Regions from separate parts of the Homo sapiens genome. Here all the other regions are linked to region 2. The links come from fine-mapping of genetic effects on gene expression. A gene starts in region 2. Each other region holds a variant in brackets. All regions are shown on one strand. Distances are between the middles of the regions. Region 1 overlaps TAX1BP1 (Tax1 binding protein 1). Region 2 holds the start of HIBADH (3-hydroxyisobutyrate dehydrogenase). Region 3 overlaps HIBADH (3-hydroxyisobutyrate dehydrogenase).

Evidence for each region. PIP is the estimated chance that this variant, and not a neighbour inherited with it, causes the effect.
Region 1: its variant is fine-mapped to the expression of HIBADH in naive CD4 T cells (Schmiedel 2018, PIP 0.95). The same link has a PIP of 0.9 or more in B cells.
Region 3: its variant is fine-mapped to the expression of HIBADH in whole blood (TOPMed, PIP 0.98).

The regions. Positions count from the first base shown.
Region 1 is chr7:27,754,166-27,764,548 of GRCh38, forward strand. TAX1BP1 (Tax1 binding protein 1) reads left to right here. Exons shown (of 17, transcript NM_006024.7): 3 at 3,866-3,968. Among named protein-coding and RNA genes, the nearest start is that of TAX1BP1-AS1, 19 kb to the left of the region's middle. The variant A/AT (reference allele first, on the strand shown) is at 6,230.
Region 2 is chr7:27,658,222-27,668,604 of GRCh38, forward strand. HIBADH (3-hydroxyisobutyrate dehydrogenase) reads right to left here and starts at 4,662. Exons shown (of 8, transcript NM_152740.4): 1 at 4,477-4,662. The coding sequence starts at 4,567. All of the region lies in intron 2 of LOC105375211 (a long non-coding RNA gene), which reads left to right. RefSeq lists an enhancer at 4,399-5,216 and a silencer at 4,432-4,851.
Region 3 is chr7:27,567,562-27,577,944 of GRCh38, forward strand. The region is part of intron 4 of HIBADH (3-hydroxyisobutyrate dehydrogenase); the gene reads right to left. Among named protein-coding and RNA genes, the nearest start is that of TSL, 43 kb to the right of the region's middle. RefSeq lists a silencer at 946-1,133. The variant C/T (reference allele first, on the strand shown) is at 4,679.

The DNA of each region.
Region 1 (10,383 bases), 96 kb after region 2:
ACTAAGTTGCCTGATTAGAAGGTGGATCCAAACAGTGATTTTATGCTTGAATATCCTGTTTCAAGCTTTTGTTTCTTTGTTCCTTGTTTTTCCTTTTCAAATTTTTTTCCTCCTTCTTCTCTTTTCCTGCCTTGGTCTCCCCTTCAGTCCTGTCTCATTCCACTCATTTTCTGTTTTTAAAAAAAGTCCTCTGGTTGTAAAAAAAAATTACAATTATAATATATATAATATATAAATATTTATAATTATACTTATTTATAATTATAAAATTAAAATGTCCTACAGTCCCACTACCCAAGTATATCCCTACCTAATTAATATCAATGGTTAGCACTGTTAATGTTTTAAGTATTTCCTTCCAGCCTTGTTTTATTAATGGAAGGAGACTTTCAGTCTTTTTTGTTTTTTGTTTTCGTTTTTGTTTTTTGAGACAGTCTCGCTCTATCGCCGAGGCTGGAGTGCAGTGGTGCGATCTTGGCTCGCTGCAACCTCTGCCTCCTGGGTTCACGCCATTCTCCTGCCTCAGCCTCCTGAGTAGCTGGGACTACAGGCACCCGCCACCACGCCCGGCTAATTTTTTTAAATTTTTTTTTATTTTTAGTAGAGACGGGGTTTCACCGTGTTAGCCAGGATGGTCTCCATCTCCTGACCTCGTGATCCCCCCACCTCAGTCTCCCAAAGTGCTGGGATTACAGGCGTAAACCACCCCACCTGGCTTGTCTTTTTTCTAATGCATATATTTTGAATGTTGCTGGCATATCTCATGCCTTTTTTAATGCCGTGATTTTTTCACTTAATCACTTACAATTAGTTCTGTACCATTTTATCTCATTGAGGAATTTATGCTGTTTATGATATTTCTCTTTTGAATCAATGTTGCATACTCCCTGTGTATATCTAGGCATTTTTGCAGTCATTTTTTTCCTAAAGGAACTTTTCTAGTAACATGATTTTTAGAAGCTACATTGTATACAGAAGAAGGAAAATGAATGCTTCTACCCATTGTACTCCTACCTTCCCCAGTGATGTCTGTTGTTGTATGTTTCTGGATTAGAAAAATTCATAGGCTCATTTGATACTTTTTTGTGGGCGTTTTTCCTCACTTAATTATATTTCTTGGGAATCCTCCTATATCCATATGTAATCAGCTCATTTATTTTCAGTGCCTTTCCTACTCCAAGGCTTGTCTCCCTTTATTCATCTCCAAACATCAGTCCCCTCTTCTCTATTTCTTTCTTTCTTTCCAAGTGGTGTCTCATATGCTTTCCTCAACCTAATGTTTCTGTCTTTTTCTCAATGTTTCTCCAGGATTTATTATCTTGATGTTTTTCTAGGTAACTTTGATGTTATTCTGGTCTTCTGTATGTTCTTTCTCAGAATTTCCTTTATGATCAAAACTTATCCAACATGTTTTTCTGAAATGTTAATCCTATTTAAAAGGAACACTTTGTGGCTTTCTCCCTTCTCTGTCACCCTTGTTTAATTTCCATTTTCTCATTTATTTTGCTGTTGCAGTAGTAACAAGAATGATGCCCACTGCTGTTGTAATTCTTCAAACTAAAGTATGTGACATATTCATTGCTTTAGTTTCTCTCTTAACATACATACAGCCTCCAGTGGTATCTGTGACTACAATTAACTGGTTAACTAGATTCAGGTATATCTCCTAGAAGCAATGTATTTTGGCAGTTTTATATAACTGGTATTTTGTCCCATTGTCCAAAGTGTTGCCATGTTCTCCCTGCCATTTTTCAATGTTTGAAAATTGCTGTTATTAACTTTAAGTGTAATAATTTTCTTTACACTTGGTAATGGTGGACTAAAAGACAAGATTTCTTGCATTTCAGTGTGTCCTGTAGCATTGAGCAGCAAGTTCTAGCCCGGTGACCAGGAAAATAAAACAGAGAATCAACCTTTGGTTTGGACACATTATGGTTTATTGACCCTTCTAATTAGATTTATTATTATTGCAGTGGACTCCTGCATAATTTCCTGATGTTCATCTTTTGTGTTCCTTCCAGTATTATCCACTCTAGCATACTTTCATGTGGGAGCTTAGATATAAGACAGTTACATCCCAAAGGAGCCCATTCTCTGTATCTTTCCAGGTTGAGAGACTTCTACATTTATTTTTTATGTATGCCCAACATGCCCCTCTCTAAGTAACTTAAGAACTATTGTTTAGTTTTAGTTTTCCTTACTCAAAAGCAATTTGAAGTGTAGTTCTATATTTCTGACTTTTTACTCAGGATTGTATCTTGCCCCCAACTTCTTGGTAGGCTCAGTTCTCAGGCTGCTAACAAGCACTTATGTGATAGGCACTGTGCTAAATACAGGGATGAACTCACTTAATACAGACACAACCTTTTGAGACTGTTTTTGTTATCAGAGGAGAAAATAGAAATGAATAACTTTTCCAAAACCATACAGCTAGCAAATTATCTTTTCTGGTATTCTGACCTCACACCCTATGCTCTTAGTTATTACAAAATACTACACCTATAATAACTACCATTCATGGAGTGTTTGCCATGGATTAGGCACTTCAGATGCTGCTTTTAGGTTCATTACCTAATTTAATTCTTCCAACAACTGTGAAAGGAAAAAAATGGGCTCAAACAGGTGAGGTAAATGACTTGTTCACTGATTCCTCAGGTTTCATATCCGTAAAGAGATGAATAGTGTCAAATGTTTTTTACCTTGACACAGAACAAAGTAAATTGTAAGATTTGTCCCAGCATGCAGATACACCAGAAACTAAATTTCATGAAACACTTACCCTTAATATACTCCAGTACTTTCTCTTCTATATAATTACAAAATAAATGCCAGTCATGAACCACTAAATTGGTTTTATCACTTCTTACTGGGTTTGTAACCTGTAGTTTCAACCATTCCTTTGGAGGCTAAAGGTGACTAAGGTTCGTCCAGCTTCAGTATTCTGTTGTCTACAATCAGGCCAATCAGAATCATAGAACATGGATAATCTAACCTTGTGGCTGATGCATAAATTTTTGTAATATTCCTAGCAAATGGATATCTAGTACCTGTTTTAAACATCTCCAATTTTCAATATTTAACATGGTATTTAGTCCATCTGGAAAATACAGATTGAGGTATGTATATATTCATGTTGTAAGTAGAAAATGTGTTAGCATTAGGTGAGACATGGGTGGTCTGTTTGTGCATATATAAACATCTTGGTGCTAAAGGTCTTTTTACAAAATTTGCCAATTGGCTGCAGGCAAGACTTGCCAAAGATGAGAGATTAGTGAATTTAGTGGATTTAGGGGGAGGCAGATGTCTAAGTAAAACAAATAAAACACTTACATTGGAGGTATAAATTAAGTTTTTTGAATTTTGATATATGTGAAAATTCTTCAGAGGTGAATTTGTAATGCATGTCTAATATTTTAAATATTAATTTTCTTTAGTCTATAACTCCCTCAGTTGTTGGATCTGCTAGACATTCAGTATGTGCCACCTTTGAAAATAATACTCTGTGGTCAATAAAAAATAAATAACAAGTATTTAAAAACTCACTGTGTTTAGTGAAATTAAATTTTAATCAAAACACATTTTTATATTTGATCATATGGATAGTTAGATTATCCTTGAGAAATTGGATAGCAAATTGCATTTTAATATAGTAGAAACTCTACTATTCAATTTATGTAGATTTTTATAGCATTAGGCTGTAGTTTAATTTAGAAATAATTTGACATGCTTGTTAAAATACTCATGATTTGTAAACATATTAAATGTATATTTTAACTGTAAAATACAATAAATAAACAGTATGCTGTATGAGCCTAATATTAAACTATTTGCTTATAAATCCGCCTTTTTTGTTATTTCCCTTTAGGTTGGATGGAGTACTGCTCGTGATTATTACACGTTTTTATGGTCCCCTATGCCTGAACATTATGTGGAAGGATCAACAGTCAATTGTGTACTAGCATTCCAAGGTAAGGACTGAAAACTGCAGAACTCAATGAAACTAGATGTCTTATTGCCATTAAAGATGTTGTACTCCATTGTAATGATTTGTTCAGGTATCTCCAGGGTACCAAAGTTGAATTAGTTAGTGTCTTTACTTAGCAAAAGCCCTAAGAATGTAACTGTCTGGTGTAGGCCACATGATATTTTATGTAGACATTTAAAAGTTATTGGTTGTTGTCTTAACTTTCACTGAAGAGTGGGTTTCTTTTTAGGTACTAATTTTTGGAGATTTTTTTTTTTCAAGTGAGAAAACAATACAATAGTAATAACAGATATTAGAATAATGTAACAAAAAAGAGGTGAGGAAAATAGTCCAGATGCAAACCACAAACATGATTAACAGAACTTATAGTTATTTGAATTCTGTCATGTGTAAGTTCCTTTATTATAAAATGATAAAGTAATATAAAATTCATTTTTGTGTTAGCTTGGCATTATTTACAAAATTTAAAAAATACTCTTATTCAGGTAATTCTGACATATGCTACAATATGGGTGAACACTGAGGATGTTATGATAAGTTAAATAAGCCAATCACAAAAAGAAAAATACTGCATAATTCCGCTATATGAGGTACTTAGAGTAGGGATAGACACAGAAAGTAGAATGGTGGTCTGCAGGGCATTCAGGTTCCCTCAAGGGAGGAATGGGGAGTTATTGTTTAATGAGGGTAGAGAGTTTCAGTTTTAAAAGATGAGAACAATTTTGGAGATAATGGTGGTGGTGGTTGCACAACAATATGAATGTGCTTAACATTGAACTATACACTTTAAAATGCTTGAGATAGTAAATTTTATGTGTTTTTTAGCACAACTTAAAAACTTGAAAAAAAAATAACACTTATTCAGAGATCTATCACAGAATTTGCTGCAGAGTAATTTTGTATTATAATTGTACTGACTTTAGGATTGTATTAAAGTGAATTCTTACCCTTGTATATGTCATAGATTTCTTTTGGTCTGGTGAAGTTTATGGACTCTGTCTCAGAATAATATTTTAATGTATATAAAATAAGACATAAAATTGCAAAGAAAACCAATTATATTGAAATAATTAAAATATCACAGTAACAAATTTTTGATATATTAATACATGTGCTTCAAAATCTGTGTGTTAACAAGATGTATTTTATTGGCAGATTTAATCACTGCCATGATTTCCAAGTAAGATAACATTGAGATACCTGTAACAATTGTAATGTGGTATTAACATATAAGTAATTCCTGTTAGTGACAAAAATCACAAATACTGATAGTAATCAAAGTACATGCTAAAATTTTAGTTAGATGTTAGTAAAAATAAAAATATAATGTTTTTCTCCATTAAAGTTGATGGATGACCTGAATTTTCTGTATCCTTTAACCCCAAGTTGAACATTCCCTAAAACTGCCTCTTTGCTATTGAGAACTTTATTTGCCTTTATGTTTAAAAAAAAAAAATTCTAGGACTTTATTGCTTTCCCCTGGGGCTGGCTATTAATAATTAAGACTTTTTCCTCTGGGTTTCTCATATCTTTAAGCAATGGGCTCTGTTAAGAATGTTCTTATGTTAGCAGAAAGAAGTTTACATTGTATGAATCACTACTTTAAAAAAATGTGCTCAGGATTATGAGATGAATGATTTAAAATAAAGTTTATTGTCTCACACATTTTCACATATTTTAATGCAATTTTAAAATTTTGTAAATCTTTTTTTTTTTTTTTTGAGCCGGAGTCACACTGTGTTACCCAGGCTGGAGTGCAATGGTGTGATCTCAGTTCACTGCAATCTCTGCCTGCTGGGTTCAAGCGATTCTTGTGCCTCAGCCTCCTGAGTAGCTGGAACTACAGGTGCTCACCACCACGCTTGGCTGATTTTTGTATTTTTAATGGAGACGGGGTTTTGCCATGTTGGCCAGGCTGGTCTCAAATTCCTGACCTCAGGTGATCCACCCGCCTCGGCCTCCCAAAGTGCTGGGATTACAAGTGTGAGCCACCATGCCTGGCCCTAAATCTTTAAAATGAAACCCCAAATCATTTCTCCCTTATCTGATCTGGTTTACCATATTCAGAATGTTAAAAATTAAATTTGTTTTAACAAACTAAAAGAAAAACCTTTAAAAAACCAAACTATACTAAAATATTTATTTAATGAAAATACTTTGTTAGCATGCAAATACTTACTTCAGAAAGGAACCAAAAAACAGTTTGAATTTGGGATAAACATTTCTAGTATTATTTATTTTAGA[A/AT]TTTTTTTTTTTTTTTGAGACGGCTTCTTGCTCTGTCTCCCAGGCTGGAGTGCAGTGGCGCGATCTCGGCTCATTGCAAGCTCCGCCTCCTTAGTTTTCGCCATTCTCCTGCCTCAGCCTCCCAAGTAGCTGGGACCGGAGGCGCCCGCCACCATGCCTGGCTAATTTTTTTTGTATTTTTAGTAGAGATGGGGTTTCACCGTGTTAGCCAGGGTGGTCTCGATCTCCTGACCTTGTGATCCGCCCGCCTCGGCTTCCCAAAGTGTTGGAATTACAGGCATGAGCCGCCGCACCTGGCTGAAAAATTTTTACAGTGATCCCTCCCTTGAGTTTCAGTCAGTTTTTGTTATAGTCGCTAAGAGAGAGCATCAGCCTGTTTTAAGGGCAGCATAACTTGGAGCCTATGCACATAGCTTTGGTATAGTGATTTCCAAACTTAACTTTAATTTGGAATCCTGCGTGCTTTAAGACACACAGAAATTTATGTCCCACCTCCAGATGTTGTGATTTAATTGGTCTGTGGTATGGCCTGGGTTTTAGAATTTTGAAAAGATCAACAGGTGATTCTGTTATGTAGAAGTTTGGGAACCAGTGGCATGGCAGACAGTTTTCAGCAAATAATTGTTAACATTATCTAATTGATATGGTCTTATCTAAGTTAAAATGTCCTGTTTTTTTATCAGGCAATATCTGACTTGGATTTTGGTGACATGTGCAGAGCAGCCTTCTAAAATAACTAGGCTCAGATTAATCAGCTTCAGATAGTTTAATTTTAAAAAATTAACATACTTTTTTGGAGCAGTTTTAGGTTTACAGAAAAAATTGAATGAAAAGTAGAGTTCTCTTGCAATCCCTTACACCACCCTTCCCTGCTTTCCTTTATTTTAACATCTTGTGTGCTCCATTTGTTATAATTGATGGACCAATATTAATACACTATTATTGTCTGAGTTCATAGTTTACATCAGGGTTCACTGTGTGATGTAAATTCTGTTGATTTTGATGAATGTATGAAGACATATACCTACTGTTGCAGTATCATAAAGAACAATAACTTCACTCCCCTAAAAGTCTCCTGTGTCCCACCAACTCATCTCTCCTTCCCTCCTGGTAAAACCCTGGCAACCAGTGATGTTTTACTGTCCCCACAGTTTTGCCGTAAAATGTCATAGAGTTGGAATCATAACGATATGTAGTCTTTTCAGATTGGCTTCTTTTACTTAGCAACATGTGGTTAAAATTCCCTCATGTCTTTTAGTGGTTTGAATAGCTCATTTCTTTTATTACTGATTAATATTCTATTGAATGGATGTATCATAGTTTATGAATCTATTGAAGGAGATCTTGGTTGCTTCCACGTTTTGGCACTTACAAATAATGCTGCAATAAACACTCTTGTGCAAGTTTTTGTGTGGATGTAAGTTTTCATTTCATGTGAGTAAATACCAGGGAATGTAATTAATTAATTGTATAAGAGCATGTTCAGTTTTGTAGGAAACTGCGAAACTGTCTTCCAAAGTGGCTTGTACCATTTTATATTCCTACCTGCAATGAATGATGAGAGTTCCTGTTGCTCCACATTTTCAGCAGCATTTGATGGTGTCATTGCTTTGGATTTTGGTGGTCTGTTTGTTTAAAAACTTTTTTTCACTTTATTCTGAATTTTGCATATGTTTGGTCTAAACATTAATTGGCAATGTGAGTTCATGGAACTTGCATATATAAAGAAATTTCCTTCTGTTCTGTGCCAGGAAACCAGTATGCAGAGGATAAAACTTGTGGTGAAATATGGGCAATGATTTAGGTATTCATAGATGTTTTTTGGATAAGGAAATGTTGTAAGTTATATATGTAGTTTATCTTTTAATAGCCTTTTTTAGATAATAAAATTTAGGTGTGTATTGGAACCGGTTTTGTTACATTTAAAACTTCTTTCCTGAAAGCTGTTGGTTTATTTTTAGTCATTTTTATTGTGATTGGTTTCCCCTTAAAAAATAAGTTAACTGCCAGGTTAACTTATTTTTTAAGTGGTGACTCACACCTGTAATCTCAGCTGTTTGGGAGGTTGAGGCAGGTGGATGGCTTGTGACCAGGAGTTAAGAGACCAGTGTGGGCAACATAGTGAGACTCCATCTGTTGAAAAAAATTTATTCAATTTGTTATAGTGACTATTGCTTTTGTTTATTAGGGACTTAGGAGTAAGTTTAAAAGTGGTTAAAAAGTAGAGAAAAGCATCCAGTTTATTTCTGTTAATACTTTAAAAACATTTTTGGGCCAGACATGGTGGCTCACACTTCTAATGTTAACATTTTGTGAGGCCAAGGAGGATGGATTGCATGAGCCCAGGAATTTGAGACCAGCCTGGGCAATTTGGCAAAACTTCATCTCTACAAAAAATACCCCCAAAATTAGCCAGGCATGGTGGTGTACACCTAAAGTCCCAGCTACTTGAGAGGCTGAGGTGGGGAGGATCACTTGAGCCCAGGAGGCTGGGGTTGCGGTGAGCCGAGATTGTACCACTTCACTCCAGACTTGGCGACAGAGTGAGAACCTGTCTCAAAAATTCATGGGCACTAAGCCTAAATGCAATATGTTTTACAAGTTTCTGAAAATTCAACAGTTCATTTTTATTTTGAATTTTGAAATTCAGAAATAAAAGCATCTCCGTGCCTAGAACTTTTTTGTTATATAAGGAAGTCAGGGAAAGCTTAGTCATTGAATATTAGAGTTATAGAAGGGCTTTCAAGCATAATGCAAATCACTTTGCTCATTTTGTGGATGAGTAATGAGAATCCTGAAATGCAAAACCCAAAACATCTAACAATACCTAAACGTGATTGTTTTCCTAAATGAACCCTTATTTATTTATTATAATCTTGTTGAATACTAAAGGCACAGTCTGTAAAATTTGACTCGAAAATTTAGTTTTCACTTTTTCCCATTTTATTTTCAGTATCCATCTGACAAGTTTTTCCAGGCAGCTTTAAATTGCAGCTCTGAATAATTATGTCTATCTCAAATGGTTTTGAACCATATTTTTTAGCAGTTTATTTTAGTGAAGTTTTTGTTTTTTAAAGAATCAGACCTTGAGGCCGGGCACGGTGGCTCACACCTGTAATCCCAGCACTTTGGGAGGCCGGGGCGGGTGGATTACCTGAGGATAGGAATTCAAGACCAGTCTTGCCAACATGGTGAAACCCCGTCTCCACTAAAATACAAAAGAATTCGCTGGGCGTGATGGCGTGTGCCTGTAATTCCAGCTACTCGGGAGGCTGACGCAGGGGAATTGCTTGAAGCAGGGAGGTGGAGGTTGCAGTAAGCTGAGATCAGGCCACTGCACTCCAGCCTGGGTGACAGAGCGAGACTCTGTCTCAAAAAAAAAAAAAGAATCAGACCTTGAATACCTAGTTTGTACAGTTTCTAATGTCTTGATGCCAGAGCTGATTAATTATGCTATATATTTGTTTTCTAGTTAAGCTTTTAAATAAGCCTAGTGGCTATTTGGAAGTTGGTATGAATTAGTAAGTTTTTAGTAGCTATTAGGAGGGTGGATTTTTAAAATCTTTAAAAATGTATGTTGCCAGATACATGTCTATGATATTTATTTAAACTTTGTATTTTGAAGTAATTTTAGATGTAAAGAAAACTTGCAAAAGTAGTACACAGAATTTCTGTATGCCCTTTGCCCATCTTCGTGTCATGTGAGCATCTTACATGACCATGGTACATTTATTTAAGAAACCAATAGTTTAACAGTGGTACAGTACTATTGACTAAAGTACAAACCTTACTCAGATTTCACCAGTGTTTCCATTACTGTTCTTTTTCTGTTCTTAGATCCAGTCTTTAATTCCTCTTTGTATTTAATTGTCATGTTGTCTTAGTCTCCTTGGTTTCCTCCTTATCTTTCATAACCTTTACTTTCTTGTGAAGTACTGTTAGCATTTTGTGGTGTTGTTTGTTTTGGTAGCTTGTCTCTCATCTTGGTTTTGCTCGATGTTTTCTCATGATTAGATTGAAGTTATGCATTTTTGGGAAGAATGCCATAGAAACAGTATTGTACCTTTCTCAGTACATTTTATCAGGGAGTATGTGATGTCCATACATCTTATTACTGGTTATAATAATCTTGATTGCTTGTTTAAGATTGTGTC
Region 2 (10,383 bases):
AAATAATGCATCTCTCTTTAAATAACTTCTGACAGTAGTGCGTGGAAAAAGTAGAGTTAAAACATAAATAAAACCAAGCTGGGAGAAAATCAATCAACCAAATACAAAGGTGATACTGGTTCACTGGTTAAGAAACTAGCATTAGTGTCTATTACTGAGGACGAATGAAAAGAAACTAGCCAGAAAACTTGGCAAAGTTTGTTTCTAAATTTATAGATGCAAATTTACCGATTATGACCTCTTTCTCCAATGTAACAAGGGGAGTTATCCGTATCTTGATAACCTTAAGTGCTATCAAAAAGCAGGTTTCACTAAGTGTCAAAATGCAAAAATTGGTAACAAGTTAATTATTTTACATTTCTGAGGCTTCTTTTCTATTCAAAGTAATGCATTTTCATTGTAGAAAACTAGAATGAAAAAGTATACAGTTGTAAGGGGAAGCAATCTCATTACACAAAAATAAAAAAAACATTTTGCATGGACTTTCAGTCTTTTGACTGCATTTTTCATTATATCATAAGGTTATATTTTCTATACAATGTATGTCTATTTTATCACATAATACATTTTTTATATCTATTTTATCACATAATACTACGTCATAAGCACTCTATCTGCTTTACTATTAACAGTTACTAAACTAAGGGTGACGACTTTCTCTATAAAGGCCTTTACGGTTTCAGTCAACTTATTTTAGTAATAAATACGCTCCTTATGTAATTTCACAAGTTTAGGGTCAACTTTTAGGCCCCGGACCATGAGCAGCTTTTCAGAACTTCATGTGCAGCCCTAGAAGCTAATGTAAAGGGAAAAACTGCCATTATATATTTGATTTATCCAATGAGTTATGCTACTTTGAAAGTAAATTTCACATATACAAAAAGGACCAATAATATTAAAAATTGTATTCCTGTTTCTATACATGATGCTAATTTTTCCATTCTACCTTTGGTCAGGTGGTCACCTCAAGATGATCTGATGTGATTTATTTTTCCATGTACAAGCTGTAGAGTCACAACGTGACATTTTGTAGAGGGCCTATAGCTGTAGATTTTCTTCTCTGTACAAATAAGTCTGAAACTAAACTTAATTACCTTCTAAAATAACATACACAATTTTATCAAACAGGTGATGAAATAGTAATACATGTACACTTTAACATTTCTCATTCTTCTATTTCCTTTTCAATGCTTTAAGTATTTTAAAATTAGGCTTAGGCACAGTGGCTCATGACTGTAATCCCAGTACTTTGGGAGGCTGAGGCAGGAGGATCAGTTGACCCCCAGAGTTCAAGACCAGGCTGGGCAACATGGTGAGACCCCATCTCTACAAAAAAAATAAATAAATAAATAAAGCCAGGTGTGGTGGTGTGCACCTGTGGTCCCAGCTACTTGGGAGGCTGAGGCAGGGGGATTGCTTGAGCCCACGAGGTTGAGGCTGCAATGAGCCATGATTGCACCACTGCACTCCAGCCTGGACAAGAGAGAGAGAGAGACCCCATCTCAAATAAACAAACAAACAAACAAACAAACATTTAAAAATTAAGATGTGGCAGGCTGGGCACAGTGGCTAATGCCTGTAAGCCCAACACTTTGGGAGGTCAAGGCAAGAGGATGGCTTCACGCCAGTAGTTCTAGACCAGCGTAGTAGGCAACTAGCCTTGTCTCAAAAAACATTTTTTTTTAAATTAGCTAGGTATCGTGGTGCACCCTGCAATCCTAACTACTTGGGAAGCTGAGGCGGAAGATCACTTGAGTACAGGAGTTCAAGGTTGCAGTGAGCTAAGTAGGTGCCATTGTACTCCTGCCTGGACAACACGGGGAGACCTGTCTCTAAAATGTATTTATAAAAAAGTTAAAAAGATGTGCTACTAACCGGCAACTTTCAGGTTTCATTTTTTTAAACAGTAAATTATATAGCTCCTTATAATATTATCATTCATATGATATAAACATCTTAAACATACTACAAATATCCAACAGAATTCAGAACATCACACATTACTATCTGAACATGGTTCTTTTTCTTAATGTCATTTGACTCCAAACTTGCAGGCAGATTTTTTTCTACTCTTTAAGAATCTAATGTCAGAAAAGTTAACACTTTTGCAGTAAACTAAAATTAACAGAAATTTAAATGTTTAAAACAATTCCAAAGAAAGGCCGGGCACAGTGGCTCACGCCTGTAATCCCAGCACTCTGGGAGGCCAAGGCGGGCGGATCACGAGGTCAAGTGATAGAGACCATCCTGGCTAACATGGTGAAACCCCGTTTCTACTAAAAAATACCAAAAAACTAGCCGGGCGTGGTGGCAGGCGCCTGTAGTCCCAGGTACTCCGGAGGCTGAGGCAGGAGAATGGCGTGAACCTGGGAGGCGGAGCTTGCAGTGAGCTGAGATTGCGCCAATGCACTCTAGCCTGGGCGACAGACAAAGACTCCGAGGGAAAAAAAAAAATTTTTTTCAAGAGAAAAAAAAATTGCTTAAGTGATTTAACCACTTCATCACAAAAGAACTATTTAAAATTTATCAGAAATCTATATTCTGACAATTACCTTTGGGCCAAAGAACCCAAAGTACAAGACCATATGCCAAAGTAGTCTAATCAGCACTCTGAGGTAGGCCCTCCCAGTTTACAGAGGCACGTATTACAGTCTTAGGCCTCAGGCTCTTTCACCATGAATTGGTAAGAACTTTCATAACTCTAAAAGGTACATCAAGGGTTCATTAAAATACCATTAGAACACCTTGTAAAACCACTAAACAGCAAATATGTCTTCCTTGGCTAATGGGAACTGAAAGAATTGTGAATTCATGTGAAAACTGGTGCTACTGTGGAAAAGTGTCTATTCTTTTAGGGTTATCTCAAAAGTCGGAAGCATTTTTGTAGCTCAATATATGAAGCTCAAACAGTGGTTACATTCAAGTTTGGCATATTCTGAGTTTTTATCTTGTTACTGTGGTTCTGTATCAGACATCTGGTCTCTTGCATCTCACCGAGCCTCTGTTCTTCTCCAGCCAGAAAGGAAATTCAGAGGTTTCACTGAGGGGGAGAATGGGAAGCTGTTAAGAATTGTAAGAGAAAGTTCTTACAATTCCTGGCCAGCCACAGTGGTTCATGCCTATAATCCCAACGCTTTGGGAGGATCACTTGAGCGCAGGAGTTCAAGACCAGCCTGGGCAACATGGCGAAACTCCGTCCCTACTAAAAATACAAAAATTGGACGGGCGTGGTGGCACATGCCTGTAATCCCAGCTACTCGGGAGGCTGAGGTGGGAGGATCACCTGAGCCCAGGAGGTCGAGACTGCAGTGAGCAGTGTGACTGGGCCACTGCACTCCAGCCTGGGCGACAGAGACCCTGTCTCAAAAAAAAAAAAAAAAAAAAAAAAGGGCGGGGGGCCAAGGGGCTCAAATCCTAACCCACTATTTTTTTTTTAAGCAAAGATTAGAAAAAATTAATGCCAAGGTTTTTTTTGTTATTAATCCTCAGTATGATCTTGCTAAACGATGCATTGTTACAACTCTCAAACTTTCAGTTTGAGGAAGACAACGGCAGTGCCCCCACAAATCAACCAATTTTTCAATTAAAGAGGAGTCCTGGTGTGATAGAAAGTTAAGGAATTAGGAACAACTGATAACAACTTTCTAGGTCTTGCTGGGAATATCCTGATTCACTCATCCAAGGGGCCTCATGTCCCTCGTGCGGAGTATGAAAGACTGTATTAGATCTCCGTGGATCTTCATCCTGGCTCTAAAAACTGCCTCTTTGTAAGTTCATGGCTAGCTTCCACAATTTACCATGGTATGAGAGGAGGGAGGCAGGATTAATTCTGCCCACAATCTTGAGGACGCTGAACGTGTTTTGGTTCATAATTTGACAAAAATGACATTTTTTTAGGTTACAGTAGAGGGGGGAAGCCCGTCTTGCTGGTCAAGGGTGACTGAAACTTTGCTGAAAGACTTACTGCCTGGCTTGTACAGCCACCGCTTGTGTAATAAGGCCATCCCCTCGGACTCAGGTGGTTAAACATCAGGCCCTGCTGCCCAAGTGTGTCCCCAACCCAAGGTGCACCCTGGGGGCGCTGAAAGACCAGGGGTCGCTGGGGTGAGTGCGGGTTGCTCCTGGAGTTGGGCGCTCCAAACGTCCTCGGAGTCCTAACTCCAAAGCAGCATGCCGGGGTCCCAAATACTCTCTTCTCTTCAGCCCAAGCTCTTCCCCACCTCTTCCTAAATCCCGAAAAGGGCGCTGAACCCGTTCATCAGGAGCCCGGGAGAAAGGGAGGGAAGGCAGAGGGGGGTACTCGCGGAGTGAGTGGCGGCCGCAGAAAAGGACAGGCCTTTAGTACCAGCCAAAATATTGTTTTTTAAGCCCCAGCCCAACCGCAGGGCCTCCCGAGAAAAGACTTCTTCGGCCGTCTGGACAGAAGAAGCGAGCGGCCGAAAGAAGGACAAGGGGGAGGAGGCGTGAGGTCCTTACCCGCTGCAAAGCTGCCGGCTGCCGGCCGCAGCCGCCGGCTCCAGTACCGGAGACCGGAGGCAGCTCCGAGGAGCCGTAAGGAGGCTGCCATGCTGCGCCCGCCCCTCTCCCCGCGGTGACCTCCGCCGCCTCCCGGAGGGCCCACAGACTGCGAGCGTGTGCAGCGGGACTGGCTGGCTCGCCCACGGAGAAGGGCGCGCGCGCACGCGCTCTCACCGCTCGGGGGCGGGTGCCCACGCGCGAGGGAAGGAGCGCGGAGCCGAGAGGAGCGGCCTGACGCGGCAGGGCCTGTCAATCCCTTTACGGACAGGGAAGCAGACCAATCAGAATTCCCAGGTCCGCAGCTGTGCGAAGGACCAATAAGAGGCCTTTTTGAACAGTGACGCCAGGCGCCCTGGCGCTGCCCCCAAGCTCGTGCCTCATTTACAGCCTGCGGGCGGGAGTCTCCTTGTTTACCAAAGCAGAGGGCGTGTGGGAGGCGGGGGCCGTCGCTCGCTCCCGCCTCCTCGGAAACCTTGTCCCCACAACCGCTGCGTGTTAAAAAGGACAAAACTGACTCGCAGCTTGAAAAACACTCAGAAAGCTACCATGTGTGTAATAACTTTTAAATTCATTTGATTTTACTTAACACAACAGTTTCTCAATACTAAAAATAGTAGGAAAAGAAGTTGGTAACATTATCTTTGAAGGGAAGAGTTACTAGAAACTTGCACTTTCTATTTCAAGGCATATTTCTCTAATCTTTGAAAATTCTACACCCTAAATCCATTTTGTAAGCAAAACTAAATATAAAATCCAGAAAGTAGTAGTATATGTATGTGTATTAGAAAGACCTTTTTTTTTTTTGGAGACGGAGTCTCTCTGTCACCCAGGCTGGAGTGCAGTGGCGCGATCTCGGCTCACTGCAATCTCCGCCTCCCGGGTTCAAGTGATTCTCCTGCTTCAGCCTCCGGAGTAGGTGAGGTGGGACTATAGGCCTGCGTGCGCCACCACACCCGGCTAATTTTTTTGGCACTTTGAGTAGAGGCGGGGTGTCGCCATTTTGCCTAGGCTGGTCTCAAACTCCTGGCGTCAAGTGATCCGCCCGCCTCGGCCTCCCAAAGTGCTGGTTATTACAGGCGTGAGCCACTGCGCGGTGCAGAGAGACAGACATTTAGTCATTCTTCTGTCAATGCTTAGTGTACATATTTGAGTCTGTAAACCCCTTGGGGGTAATTGCAGGCCTTCTCATCTCCACTGACTCCACCAAAGGGTTGGAAGCCATGACCACACCAAAGCAAGACTATAGCCTTTGGAGAATGGCAATACAGCAGGAAAGAGAATGTGTATGGAGTAGCTAGGGAAATGCGAACCCCAATCTAAGTAGCACAATCAACAAAATTTGACTTTGACCTTTTTTTCAACTCAGTAACCCATGGAGTTGAAAGCAAAGGAATTGGATCATTTCCATCTGGGCTCTTTTCATGTTTCTGGGCATGCTGGCAACGTTTCCAAAAACTTAAAAACTTGTACAGAGTGCAAGGTCCCTATCTGTAACTGGGAGGAAGTTAATGCCCTTCTTTGACCATCACTCCACCCCAACCCTCTACCCAACACTAAATGAAAAGAAGGAAGGAAAGGGACGAAGGGAGGGAGGGAGAAAAAACTCATTTCAACAATTAGACCTTCTCCTAGATTTGGGTCCCCACCCCTACTAGGGGTAAATTAGTTTCTGGAGCATTTCCCACCTGTGCCTCTCTTCCTGGTTTCGTCAGGTTTTAGCTGGAATAGATCTCCTGCAGGCAACAAATGTGGGCCTACAGGTTTCTTTTTCTTTTTCTTCCTCCAGCACTACAGGTTTCTATAATTAACTCCTGAACTGCAATTGGTCTTTCAACTGTGTCTCCTCCAAGAAGCCCTGCATTGTCTTCTCCAACAATGTCTCCTCCAAGAAGCCCTACATTGATTCATAAACTAAGGAATTTTCATAGGTTTCCATGATTTTAAAGAAGCGTTATGAATTTTTAAGTAATTCTTACTGTTTGAAGGTGCTTGCAGATATTATTGTACTGGCAAATGCAGTTCCTGCCTATGGCTGGTTAGCTTTCTTCATTTGATTGCCCTCCTGATGCCCTTGTTTGAAAGGCACTGCAACTCCTCCCTGAGTCTTTGCCACGCATTTTTGTTTGTAATTGTTTCAATGCCTTATAGTGGCCCCTGACTTCCGCTTCCAGGAAGATGGAGTAGATAGGTTTCTCCCTATTCTTCTAAGTACAACTAAAAACTCAACATTATATATAAGATAAACATAGGGAGACTTTGAAAGGTGGAGAGAAGTCACACTGGCTAGGGTCCAGAGAGCAACACGGTGGGAAGTTCCTTGGGTTTTCATGTAGCCTTATATACCCCAAACTGGGTGCTGGAGAAGCCAAAACCAGAAACCCCAAAATGCCAGGAAGCATAGATAGACAAAAAGTGCCCCAATAAAAGGCTGCTCTTTCTAGCCAAGTGATGAAAAAGGAGTGGCCTAGCAAGAAAGGAAACATTTAGAAGATAATCACTCCACTGTAGACAAACAATACACACATACATACACACACTGACCCCACCCCATAAAGCAAAGGCTGAGTTGGGAGCCTAGACTTCCACACTCTCCAGGTTGTGATGAGACACCCCAGCATCCTAACACCCCAATCGCTCTACTCCTCAACCCCTCTAAGGTGATGTCAGAGAAAACCAAAGAGAGGTATGGGATTTTCATCTTCAACTGGGCAGTAACAAGTAATCCTCCACACACATCCTTCCCTACTCTCAGTGTCACTGGAAACCACAGGGCGACCCTGGATTTCCACTCCTACCTTACAGTGGTGAGGTACCCCTCCCTTTCCCTGCTTAGATGGTGTAATTGGAGGTGTATTGGAGAGTCAGAGCTTTCATCACTGCCCAATGGTAAGGATGTCACACCCCTTCCCCTCCATGGTGTCACTGGAGGCTACATGGGGGCAGTAAGGAGCCATTCCAAGCCCTCTCAACTAGGGAAGTATCAGTGGACAACTAGTGGGGAGCTGAAACTCCCACCATTGCCCAGCAGTAACAAGGAACCACCCACCCTTGGTGTCAACAGAGGTGGAATAAGGAACCTAGACTTCTACTACCAGTTGCCATTTACAAGTTGATGCCCCCTGCCAGAGCAGTGTCAAGAAAAACTAGTTAAAATAAAAGGTTTAAATAATATCCAAAATATCATAATACCCAAATGTCCAGATTTCAACAAAAAATCACTCATGATACCAAATTTCAATTAAAAAATGACTCATGATTCCAAAACCCAGGAAGATTTCAAGCTGAATAAAAAAGACAATAGATGCCAACACTGAGATGACAAGTTAAAATTATCTAACAAAGATTTGAAAGCATCCATCAGAAAATATTTCAAGAAGCAATTAAAACATGCTTGAGGCCAGGCATGGTGGCTCACACCTGTAATCTTAGCACTTTGGGAGGCCGAGGCTGGCAGATCACTTGAGGTGAGGAGTTCAAGATCAGCCTGGCCAACATGGTAAAACCCCATCTCTTCCAAAAAAATACAAAAATTACCCAGGTGTGGTGGTGGGCACCTGTAATCCCAGCAACTCAGGAGGCTGAGGCAGGAGAATCACTTGAACCCAGGAGGCGGAGGTTGCAGTGAGCTATCACGCCACTGCACTCCAGCCTGGATGGCAGAGTGAGACTCCTTCTCAAAAAGTAAAATAAAACAATAAAACATGCTTGAATTAAATAAAAAGAAATCTCAGCAAAGAAACAACATATAAAGAAGAAATAAATGGAAATTTTAAAACTGAAAAAATGCAAGAAATACAATTTTTTAACTCAACAGCAGAATAAAGAAAAGAATCACTGAGCTAGAAGATAGAACAGTAGAAACTATCTAATCTAAACAGAGAGAAACTAGACTGGGATTTAAAAAGCTACGAAGCGCTGGGCGAGGTGGCTCAAGCCTGTAATCCCAGCACTTTGGGAGGCCAAGGCGGGCGGATCACGTGGTCAGGAGATCGGGACCATCCTGGCTAATACGGTGAAACCCCGTCTCTACTAAAAATACAAAAAAATTAGCCAGGTGTGGTGGCGGGCGCCTGTAGTCCCAGCTACTCGGGAGGCTGAGGCAGGAGAATGGCGTGAACCCAGGAGGTGGAGCTTGCAGTGAGCCGAGATTGTGCCACTGCACTCCAGCCTGGGCGACAGAGCGAGACTCCGTCTCAAAAAAAAAAAGCCACGAAGCTCAGGGGCATGTGTTGTGACTCTTAACAAAAGATCTAACATTCAGCTGGGTGTGGTGGCCCACGCCTGTAATCCCACTTTGGGAGGCCCAAGCAGGTGGATCACCTGAGGTCAGGAGTTCAAGACCAGCCTGGCCAACATGGTGAAACCTCGTGTCTACCTAAAATACAAAAATCAGCTGGGCATGGTGGTGGGCGCCTGTAATCCCAGCTACTCAGGAGGCTGAGGCAGGAGAATCGATTGAACCTGGGAGCAGGAGGTTGCAGTGAGCCGAGATCGCGTTACTGCACTCCAGCCTGGACAACAAGAGTGAAACTCCGTCTCAAAAAAAAAAAATCTAACATTCCTGTCATCAGAATCTCAGAATCTGGGAAGAAGAGGAATAAGACTTTCCCAACAATACCCACACTATCTAATCATTTTTACGCCTATTCCTAAGATATCATTCTCTCTGTACTCACCTCCCTGACAATGCAGTACTCTTTCCCTTTCCCAGAGCACTCTGAGTTCCTCAGGTTCTCTGCTTTTCTTCTTTCCTTCCTTTCTCTTTTCCACACATTCTAATACTGCTTCTACACTCCCCACTTGTTAGGACTCAACTCAAAGTGACTTTCCTCAAGAAGTCTTTTTCTGAATAATATATAAGCAGTCATAAAAACAATCCAGTTTGATTAAGAAACTACATTTAAAGTCACTTTCAAAAACTATCAGCATCAGGTTTGGTTGGATAAAACAAAGTCCAAATGATAACAATTTGGTTTTTCCTCTCATAAAAGTAGTGTGGATGTAGGCAGAACCAGGGCCAGTTTGACAGCTCTGAGTTGTCAAAATTCCAAACTTCTCATTTTGTTTTACTGTCTAAAATGATTTTCTAACCTCATAATTACTTCATGATCAAAGATAGCTGCTAGTGGTCCAACCATCTTGTCTGAGTTCCAGGCAAGAGGAAAGAAAAGGAGGGAAAAGTAAAGGAAAGAGGTGTGTCAGCAAACTGTTCTCATTTTCAGAAGCCTCCCTATAAGTCCCACCCCACAATTGTCCTTCCCACTGGCCAGAACTTAGTCACTTAGCCATAAGATTTGGATGGCATGACAAGTCTTTGTTCTAGGCAGTTTTAAAAATTTTGGAACACAAAACACCGGTAAGATAATTGAGTTGTGTCCTAAGATAAGAGCAAATCTAAGTACATATTATTGCATTTATTTAAATGGATTAAAGTTGGAGACATCAGTATGAACTCATGCTTAACTTAATATAGATACAGATGGTTACATATAGAAATATTTATCAATGTGTATATAGACACAGGTTAGTATACACATGTCTCTTTGCTCTGTCATCTGAGGGGGCCTAGAAGCAATTATAATCCAGTAGCAACAATTGTGTGTTTTCCAGTTCTATATGTCTACCTTTGACTGTGGTCAACAATTATCTTGTAATTGGATTGCAAGATCCTTGTAAATATGGATTACAAAAGGTTATTGAATAAATTTAATTACCATGAAATAAATATCTGTTGATTTTGCCAATTATTATTATCATACAACCCAATTTATATTCAGAGTTATTTTACTTACTATGTGGCCCTCAACATGCAAATTCAATATGAACATATAATCAAATGAATTAACTATATTCTTTTGTTTCTGT
Region 3 (10,383 bases), 91 kb before region 2:
TTTCCCACCTTCTTCTGCATTACAGTATTTGAATATTTCTTTGATATTCCATTTTATCTATTGCATCTTTGTATAGGGTGTGTGTGTGCGTGCGTGCACACGTGTGTGACTGACCTAGGGATTACAATATACATACTAAAGTTTTCATGTCCATTGAAAATTAATATTTTACCACATCAAGTGAAATGTAGAAAATTTACTATTACTGCCTTTAATATTATAGTTGTCATCTGTATTACATTTACATATATAGAAAATTCCACCAATGTTTTACAGATGGCCTTCGACTTAGTTTGCCTTACGATTTTTTTTGACTTTACATTGGTACAAAAGCCATATGCATTCAGTACACTCCTTGATTTTCCATGGGGCTACATCTAGATAAACCCATCCTAAGTTGAAAATGCACATTCAACTTACAATATTTTCAACTTATGCAGGAGTTACTGGGATGTAATCCCACTGTAAGTCAAGGGGCATTGGTAATTTTTAATCACAACCATCACACATATTTTTAAGAACTTAAAAGTAGAAAAAATACTGTATTTATCCAAATGCTTACAATTTCTGTTTCTCTTCTTTCCTGCAGTTCTATAGTTCTCTCTGGTATCAGTTTCCTTTTACCTGAAGAAGTTCCTTTATCCTTTTTTTGGTAAAGCAGATCAACTGGAGATAATTTTTCTGAGTTTTCCTTTACCTGTGAATATCTCTATTTCATCTTCATTCCTGAAGCATATTTTTGTCACATATAAAATTCTGGTTTCAGTGCTTCAAAAATGTTATTCCACTGGCCTTTTGGCCTACATGTTTTTTTCTGAAGTTGTTGCAATCATTGTTCCCCTGTAATGCATCATTTTTTTTTCTAGCTGATCTCAAACAATTTTATTTCTTTAAATAGCCTTTTATTTTTTTGAGACAGAGAGTCTCTCTCTGTCACCCTGGTTGGAGTACAGTGGTATGATCTCAGCTCACTGCAACCTTCGCCTCCAGGGTTTAGCCAATTCTCATGCCTCGGCCTCCCAAGTAGGTGGGATTACAGGTGACTGCCACCAGGCCCAGCTAATTTTTTTTTAAATTTTTTTGTATTTTAATAGTGACAGGGTTTCACCACGTTGGCCAGGCTGGTCTCAAACTCCTGACTTCAAGTGATCCACCCACTTTAGTCTCCCAAAGTGCTGGGATTACAGGCGTGAGCCAGCACCCAGCCAACATTTTTTCTATGTGTCTGGTTTTTAGTAGTTTATGATAATCTGGGCATAGATTTCTTTATTGTATTTGGGGCTCACTGAGCTTCTTAAACCTCTAAGTTTGTCTTTCACTAAACTTGGGAAGCTTTCAGCCACCTTTTTTTTTTTCCAAATTTTTTTTTTTGTACCACACTCATCTCTGTATGAAACTCCACTGGCACAAATGTTAGATATTTCTTGGTATTATCTCAGGGGATCCCAAGGCTCTGTCCATTTTCTTACAGTCTTCTTCTTTTAGTCTGATTAGATAATTTCCATTCATGTAATTTCTGTCTCCAAATCCACTGACTCTTTTCTTTGTCACAAGCACTCTGCTTTTGAACATATCCAGTGATTTTCTTCAAATTTCTAATTATTGTATTTTCCAGTTATAAAATTTCCATTTGGTTCTTTTTTATAGCTTCTTTTTCTTAACTGAGATTATTATTTCTTAAAGCATGGTTATAACAGCTGTTTTAAAATCACTGCCTAATATAAAACATCTGGGTAATCTCAGGGTTGGTATCTTGTCTCTTCCCTTGAGACTTAATCAGACTTTCCTGGTTCTTTTTGTGTCAAGTAATTTTGTATCATATCATGAACATTTGGGATATAAGATGCTATGAGACTCTGGGTCTTGCTCCAATTCTATGAAGAACAGGATGTATTTGAATCTGTCCTAGATGTGCATCAGCCAGGAGCCAGCCTGATATCTGGGTGGGCTATCTATCCCACAGCTACTTGGTATGCTGTTTAGGGTCAGATCTATGTTGTATGGCTCAAGGGTGGGCCCAGAAGTTCATACATAACATCATGCGGTCCCTTTATGAGCTCCCTCTTATCTGTGAAGGGCCCCACTCTCTGACACTCTACTACCCCACCTCCATCCCCCACTGCCACCCGGTCCTCTGACTAGAAAGTCTTGTACTTCCTGCAACTAGATCTGTCTCTGGGGCCAAACAGCAAGAGAATTAAAAAAAGAAAAAAGCAATAGGAATCATTCTACACTGTTTGGACCATAGTTCCTCTGATCAGAGAGGATTCACTTCCCTTGGATTTTTAAGTGTCTGGTTGGCTGCTGCTGCCACCACAAAACTGCAGGTTCAGAAGAGAGGATCATATGGCAGAGCTGGGAGGGAAGAAAAACAAGACAGAGCATTTCTTCCACTTTCTCTGTCTCATAGAGCCTCTCTTCCTGCTCCTTGGATCAGAAATTTCCCTTGGAATTCTTGTTGTTTGCACCTGTGCACAGTCCTAGGATTCATGCTGTCTTTGAATTCAGACTGGGAGATACAAAAAGTGGGGAAAGGATCCAGGAAACTCATTGCCAGAGCTTTTGTACTTAAAAGTTCTATTTTCCTTCTCCAGTCTATTTGCTATCATTTACCTTTCAGAGTCCTCAGACAGCTTCTCCAGGCACTCTGCCCAAGGTTTTTAGACACATTCAGTAGGAGAGAAAGGACAGTATATTTACTTCATCTTAACCACAACTGGAACCTACTATCATTCTTGGTTCTGTTGGATGCAAATTCTAAGGTGACAGTTACTTGTATTTTGATGATATTGTTCTACTGTTTTCTGGCTTCAGTTGTTCTTAGGAGGTCTGCTATTAACACAAAAGGCTACCTATTGTATGAATTCTACATGCATATGTACATGATATTTACATGATATTTTTACACGATATTCTAGAAGAGGCAAAACTATGGTATCAGAAAGCAAATCAGTGTTTACCTAGGGCTGAGGAAGGAACTGACTACAAAAAAGCATGCGGGGAGTTTCTGGAGTGATAGAAACTCCCCTCTGCCTTAAACGTGATGACGGTTACACGACTATATATAGTTGTCCAAATTCATCAATCTCTACACTTCAAACAGGTAAATTTTACTGTATATAAATTATACCTCAATAATGCTGGGGGCGGTGGGGGGAGTAAAAAGAAAGTATGGTATCAGTCTGTATTGTTCTTTTATAGGTAATGTGTCTTTTTTTCCCAGCTGCTTTACACGTTTGTATTTGGTACTGCGTAGTTTTACTATCATGTATTTAGTAAGATTTCTTTTTTAAAAAAATTTAAACTCCTATTTGATATACATTGTCCTTCCTGTTTCTGTGGGTTTATGTCAATTCTGAAAAATTCTCAGATATCATCATGTTGACCACTCTCTTCCCATTCTATCTAGAACTCCAATTAGATGCATGCATAACTTTTTCTTTCTAGCTTTCTATTCATGTCTCAACTTTTCTTTCATATTTTCCATTTCCAACTCTTTCTGTAGTACCTTTGGGTTATTTCTTTAGATATCTCATTTACTAATTCTCTCTCTTCTGCTCCCATATACCATTTATCTATTAATTTTTAAATTTCAATGATTTTTCTAAATTCGGTCATTTCTGACATTTTCTGGATCCTTATTCATTTTCAATCTATCTTTTATTTTTATTTTTTTTTGAGACGGAGTTTTGCTCTCGTTGCCCAAGCTGGAGTGCAATGGTGTGATCTTGGTCTACTGCAACCTCTGCCTCCCAGGTTCAAGTGATTCTCCTGCCTCAGACTCCCGAGTAGCTGGGATTACAGGCATGTGCCACCATGCCCGGCTAATTTTCTTGTATTTTTAGTAGAGACAGGATTTCTCCATGTTGGTCAGGCTGGTCTCAAACTCCTGACCTCAGGTGATCCACTTGCCTCAGCCACCCAAAGTGCTGGGACTACAGGCATGAGCCACTGCTCCAGGCTATCTTTTATTTCTTTAAATGTTTTATGTATAGTCATTTCATACTCTGTTTTGGAAACATCAGTATCTACAGTTCGTAGAGATTGAATATTTTTGTTTCTGTTGGCTTGTCTGGTGACCTGTCTCCCTTTGTGTCTGGTAATTTTTTTTTAACTGTGAGCTTACATTTATTGTACTTGATATTTATGAGTTCTAAGATTCCTGGATTAAGGATGATTTTCTCCAGAAAGAATTTTTATTCTTCTATGGATGACAAGTTCTAGCCCTACCAAATTAAGGTCTTAAATTTAATTATTGGTTGAGTATCTTCCCAATTGGATGAGTAATTTAAATTTGAACTCTATGCCCATAAATTCAGAGCTACTATTGTAAAGATTCAGGAGAAACTAATATACTTTATTTCTCAACCTGTAACCAGCATAGACAGACAGATTTCCTAGTTAGATTCTTTAACTAGCAGGCTTACGATCCATAGAACACCCTTTCTCCCAGAAGTTATGGCCTCTTTGGGCATTTGGCTTTGTTGGGGCCTAAGGGTTGGCTTTCTCACTTTGTGTGAGCATAGGGCCTAGGTTTCCATTACCCCATGATTGTTTTACTCACAAATGTTAACGTCCAGAGCCCCTGTTTTCTGGAATCAGCATTTGCTTCCAGGTCAGCCAGAGCTTCTGGCTTTATTTATTATTCTTATTTCAGATTACTACTCGATTATTTGGT[C/T]ACTGAAGATCTCCATTCTCTAATGAGAAATGTAAAGTGCATTTAAAAGTACATTTATTGTAATTTATCCAGCCACCGGTATTTTATAGCAGCAGGGTATTTTAATATACCTAGTCTACCATATTGCCAGAAGCAGTAGATGGCTATGTAAAGAAACAAAACAGGTCCTTAAATGTCAAAGTAAAGAGTGATTTCCATTGTATTTTTATGCCAAGATACTTTTAACTGTTTTCTCATAATAAAACAGGTTTCATCTTTACCATTAGCACCTTCATTATTACAGCAGAATGTTGCTTTTATGACATCTATTTTTACAAATGAAATCAAGAAATTTCATCCAACTACATACAGCAGTCAATCATGTTAATGAAGACTTTCCATGAAAGTAATCTACAAGAAACATTAGGTACTTGAAATCTCTAGATCACTTCAATTTTGTGCTTTTGTTTTAAATATCTCATAAAAATATTTATTATCCACGAATCAAGTATTTACTGAATATCTTCTGTATACAAGGAACCCACTCTCAGCTCTTCAGGGTATACAAAAATAATTAATATGCAATTCTTGCTCAAATTAAGAATTTGATTTGGTGAGCCAGACTATTACTGCATTATAAAATTAACTTTAATACACAAAATATTGTCATACAAAAGTTAAAATGTTCAAAATTCCAAGAAGAGAAATATCACATTCATTTGGGGCATAAAACTACAACAGAAGAGTAAAAGAAGCTTCACTAAAAAGATCAGATCAATATGGGCCATGAAAGATGATTAAGATTATATATACTGGTAAGAAACGACTAGGGACAGAGAAAGAAATTCTGTGTAAAGTGATCTGCAAAAGCAAACGCATAAAGGCGAAAAAAGTAGGGAATTTGTGCAGAAAATTGTAAGTAGCTGAATTTAGAACAAACAAAACTCCAGATACACTGACTCTCATTTAATCTTCAAACATGCCATGCCCTTTTCTAATTCTCAACTTTGAATACTATCTCTTCTTGGAATGTCCTCATCCAGCCCCATAATACATGGTAAACATGGATTACTTCTTCAGGAAAGCAACTGCCTAGCAATCAGATCTGGTAAATGTGGATGACCCTAACTACATCATCGTCTTATCATGGAACTTCTTTATATCTCTGTTATGGCAATTACCGATCCATACTGTAACACAGTATCTTTTTCCATGCCCATCTCACTGATTAGACATCGTCTAGACTAGACTAGAGTATGAGCTTCTTGAGAGCAAAGACCATGACTTATTCTAACAAAGTGGCTGATATATGCATTATTCTAAAAACAGGAGTGGAAGAAGTATAGGAAAAAAGGAACGAGAAAAATTCTGTAAATTTCCTTGCATGTATTTAACAAACTTTGACAGGTAGTGCAGAACCAGAATATGTCACTGGCTAAGAGAAAAATGTAGCGGCAGACTCTCTAAGGCTGTGTCCTGTCCCACAGAGTAGCTACTAGCAACATGTGGCTGCTGAGAACTTAAAATATAGCTAGTTCACATTCAGATGTGCTTTAAGTGTAAAACACACATATTTCAAAGACTTAGTATGAAAAAATGTGAAGTATCTGAATAAATTTTATATTGATTACATGTTGAAATTATGTTTTTGATATACTGGGTTAAATAAAATGTATTCCTGAAATTATCCTCACCTGTGTTTCTTATTACTTTTCTAATGTGACTACTAAAAAATTTTAAATTACACATGTGGCTTATATTACATTTCTATTGGACAGTGCTACTTTCAGAATTTGAACCTAAAAGATTAGAAAAACTGAAATTGTAATATACTATAGAGGACCAAGAGCTAGAGCTGGTTTTACTGAAATGAAAAAGTTTGACTCCAAAAATGAGCTTGATTGAAGGAGTCCAATAAATAAAAATGCAGATCCAGAAATCAGAAAAGTCTGTGATGGAAATACAGAGTTAGAAAATCTCTTTAGAAATTAGATAGTTGGAATTTTGGAAAAGCAGGTGAATCCCCAGAGAAAATTTCAGATCCCACAGCTTAGAAAAGGGGAGGAAGAGATAGCAGGTGATTTTTTTTTTCCTCAAAGGATAGGATAGGAGGGGCTGGTATCCCACGAAGAATCTCTGAAATCATTTCCCACAGAAATATGATGCTAATTGTGTTATAATTTAGGGATATTCTCAATATATGTGAGGTTGAAAATAATAGGGACCTAAATATATTAGAAAATATTTTTTCCAAGGAAAGTACATTCCAAACTCCAAACAGGTAACTCTTTACCTTTTTTATTTGTAAACAAACAAGCTTGCAAGTTAGCTTCTGTCATAACTAAGTACATAGATAGGTTCAGACATGCAAAACTTTATTATTGCTGCTCTAATAGAGAAAAAAAGTGGTTATGCACACCTCCCCCTCTAATAATAATGAAATTTACATACTGTACTCAGCCACTGGAACTAATACTTGAAAAGAGCCCCCAAAATATAGTTCAAGTTCAAAATCCATGTATCTTCCACATCTCTTATTTTTACCAAAACACAAGCAATCTGGAGCTGTTATAAGCAAAAGACTGTTTTAACAAAACTCAATTTCTTCAAAATAGAGCTATGTACATACAAAATGAACATACCATTTTAAATTATAAAATACATTTTCCTCTCATTTAGGAGATTTAATAGAGAACTGTTTGTATTCCCAGTGATATTATAAAGCAGGTAATCGAGAAGGGCAAGCTGACTACTATTCTTATGTGTTCAGACAGAGCTCAACTTATTGGACAAAGGCTTATCTTATCTTTTGTAGATGAGAGTTCTAGGATATCCCATGACCTTCCCTAATATTACAAACCTTAGCATTATAAAATTATTTTACTTTTCCCAGAATAAAATTAGAAAGCCAGATACTCTGCCAAATAGGTTTTTTAATTGGAAATTTTAGCACTCTTGATTTATTTGTCAAGAATCTCTGGACTTACAGTGTAGCTGAGAACATAGGTATACAGTAATTACAATGTAGGTGAGACCCTAACCTGTCATGGTGCTTCACAGGGAGGGTGACTTTTACCTAAGGAGAGATCACAGGAGGTGGCATCTACATTGGGACTTGAGTAAATAAGGTAAATATTTAAGAATTAGTGAATAGTCCAGTTTGGTTAGAATTTAAGGCATGTGGAAAGAAGTAGCAGAAAATAAGAATGGAAAAGTAAGTTGGATCCAGAGTGTGGAGAGCCTTGAATGGCAGGCTGAGAAGGAAGACTGGGCTGGACTGGGTGAGCATCAGGAACCAGAGAAAGTTTCTGAACAATTTATCAGAAGTATATCTTGGGCAGACTGAAATCTCAGAACAGTGAGGTGGATATAACTGTATAGCAGTGGCATAGCAGCAGGGATGGTAAAAGCAGCAAGAAGTAGAGGAAGTCCGAGCAATGGTGTGATGTGCCTGCTTTCTAAGAAATAATGCACAGGGCTGTTTTCAAAAAAAGGAAACACATGTGCACATGTTGTTTTTTCCCTAAGATCATGAGGCCTCCTCTTGAGCAACTAGCCTAGCCTGTAAGGAGGAAAACAGTTTTTATCATGTAAGTACGGAAATCTGCTTTTTCCTGAATGGATTCTGGGCTGGACAGCCTGAAGACAGCCATCTGCTCGCAGCAACAGCAGCAGCAGCATGCTTGCTTATATGCATACAATCTTCCTTTGCACTGCTGGTTGGCTCAGCTCAAGTTGCCCACCCTAGGATTACTTTAACATATGCAGTAAAAGTCACATTCTTCTACTCATTGAATCAAGGCTGGAAAGCTTGAGAAGAAACATTCAATCACTGACAAAATAAAGTGGAAAAGGAATCCAAAGGAGGGAAGGAAAGAAATAAGACAGCAGAGAAAGGGATGGGAGCAACGGAAACCAAGAATGAAGCAGGAAGACAAGACATGAGGGAGGAGGAGGAACTGATCATAACCATTACACCTATGTTCACTTAAAAGTAATTGTTATTTAGAGTAAAACTTTATTTCCAAAAACTGTGTGGATGTGGAGGCGGTAACAAGGTTAATTATGTCTCATAATTAGTAATTAAGATTATATAACAAAGCCTTTGGCAATGTTCTATTCTAATGATGGAGGGCCAACATCAGAGAAATATAATAGTGCATTAGCATAACCACATATGCAAAGTACACAAAACCATTTCCAAAGTTAACTTGTCATTGAATGATTAAATATGAATTCATAATTAGAAAAATCCACACTGTAATTTATTGGCTCTCCTGACTGTTCTGGTTCATTAAAAGTTGATTACTAAACAGTGACCTCTAGTGGCCCATAATTTTCCAATGCTATATTGTTTCTCTTAAAGAGTCAGCATAGATTTGAAGAACCTATTTACCCTAAATAAGGCAATTACTTTGAAGATGTTAATATTCCTTTTCATTATAAAGGGAAATATTCCTTTTTCCTATACTTAGCTCCTTAAAGTATATTCTGGCAAATACAAAATGCCAAAAAGCTCTCCTGCTTCTACCCAAGTGTCACACATTCATTAACAAATTATGATCGAGCACCTATTTGTGAAACCGTGGGGCTGGGTGTTTGGGGTATTTTATTAATAATTAGAAACTGACTTCACTAATTCTTTACTATCCAATAAGAAATGAAATCAACATTAATACAATTGTCATGCTACTATCTATTCACTGCCTATACACACGGGACACACTGAAAACATACTTGATTTTAAAATTCAAAGACACCAACAATTTCTGATTCAATGCATACCAAATTACTAAGGTTTATCTTAAAAGGCAATAGATTAACAACTGTAAAAAACAAATCCAGCTCATCTCTTAAATTTTTCTTAAAGAGATTTCTATAACAATGACCTTTCGGAAGAAATTACTTCTACAGCACATTTGTGAACTTTCCAAGCATCATTTCTCTCTTTTTTTTTTTTTTGAGATGGAGTTTCGCTCTTGTTGCCCAGGCTGAAGGGCAGTGGCATGATTTCGGCTCACCACAACCTCCGCCTCCCGGGTTCAAGCAATTCTCCTACCTCATCCTCCCAGGTAGCTGGGATTACAGGCATGCGCCACCACACCTGACTTATTTTTTATTTTTAGTGGAGATGGGGTTTCTCCATGTTGGCCATGCTGGTCTTGAACTCCTGACCTCAGGTGATCTGCCGACCTCGGCCTCCCAAAGTGCTGGGATTACCGGCATGAGCCACTGTGCCTGGCCAAGCATCATTTCTCTCTTAAAATGAATACAAATCTTTTTAAAAGACCCATATCCTTGTAATAATAATTTATGTTAAATTTAAACCCAATTTAAAAATCCATAAATATATTTGTTTTTATTACTTGCAACCCAGGTACACTCATTATGAAAACAAGGTTTCAGAAAGGCTCGCAATATAAAGAGAAGACTTTGGGTGTGTTATTAAAAGGATTATATATCCCTTCATCCCCCCAAATCAGTCAAGATAATCATCCTCGTTCCCTAAAGTAGTGGCAATGCTGTAGCATCCTTTAAGAATGTAGGTAAGCCTCCAAAAAAATTTGAGATGTAAATAAAAGAAACAAATATACTTCCCTGATGTACCATTGCTGCAGAACACATGGGTGTGGAGTGCCAATTGTTTCTGTAATGATTTAATATAGTAGCTGGATAATGAGTTGTACCTTCTGCAACAACTGAATCACCATTTAATGCTATTATCA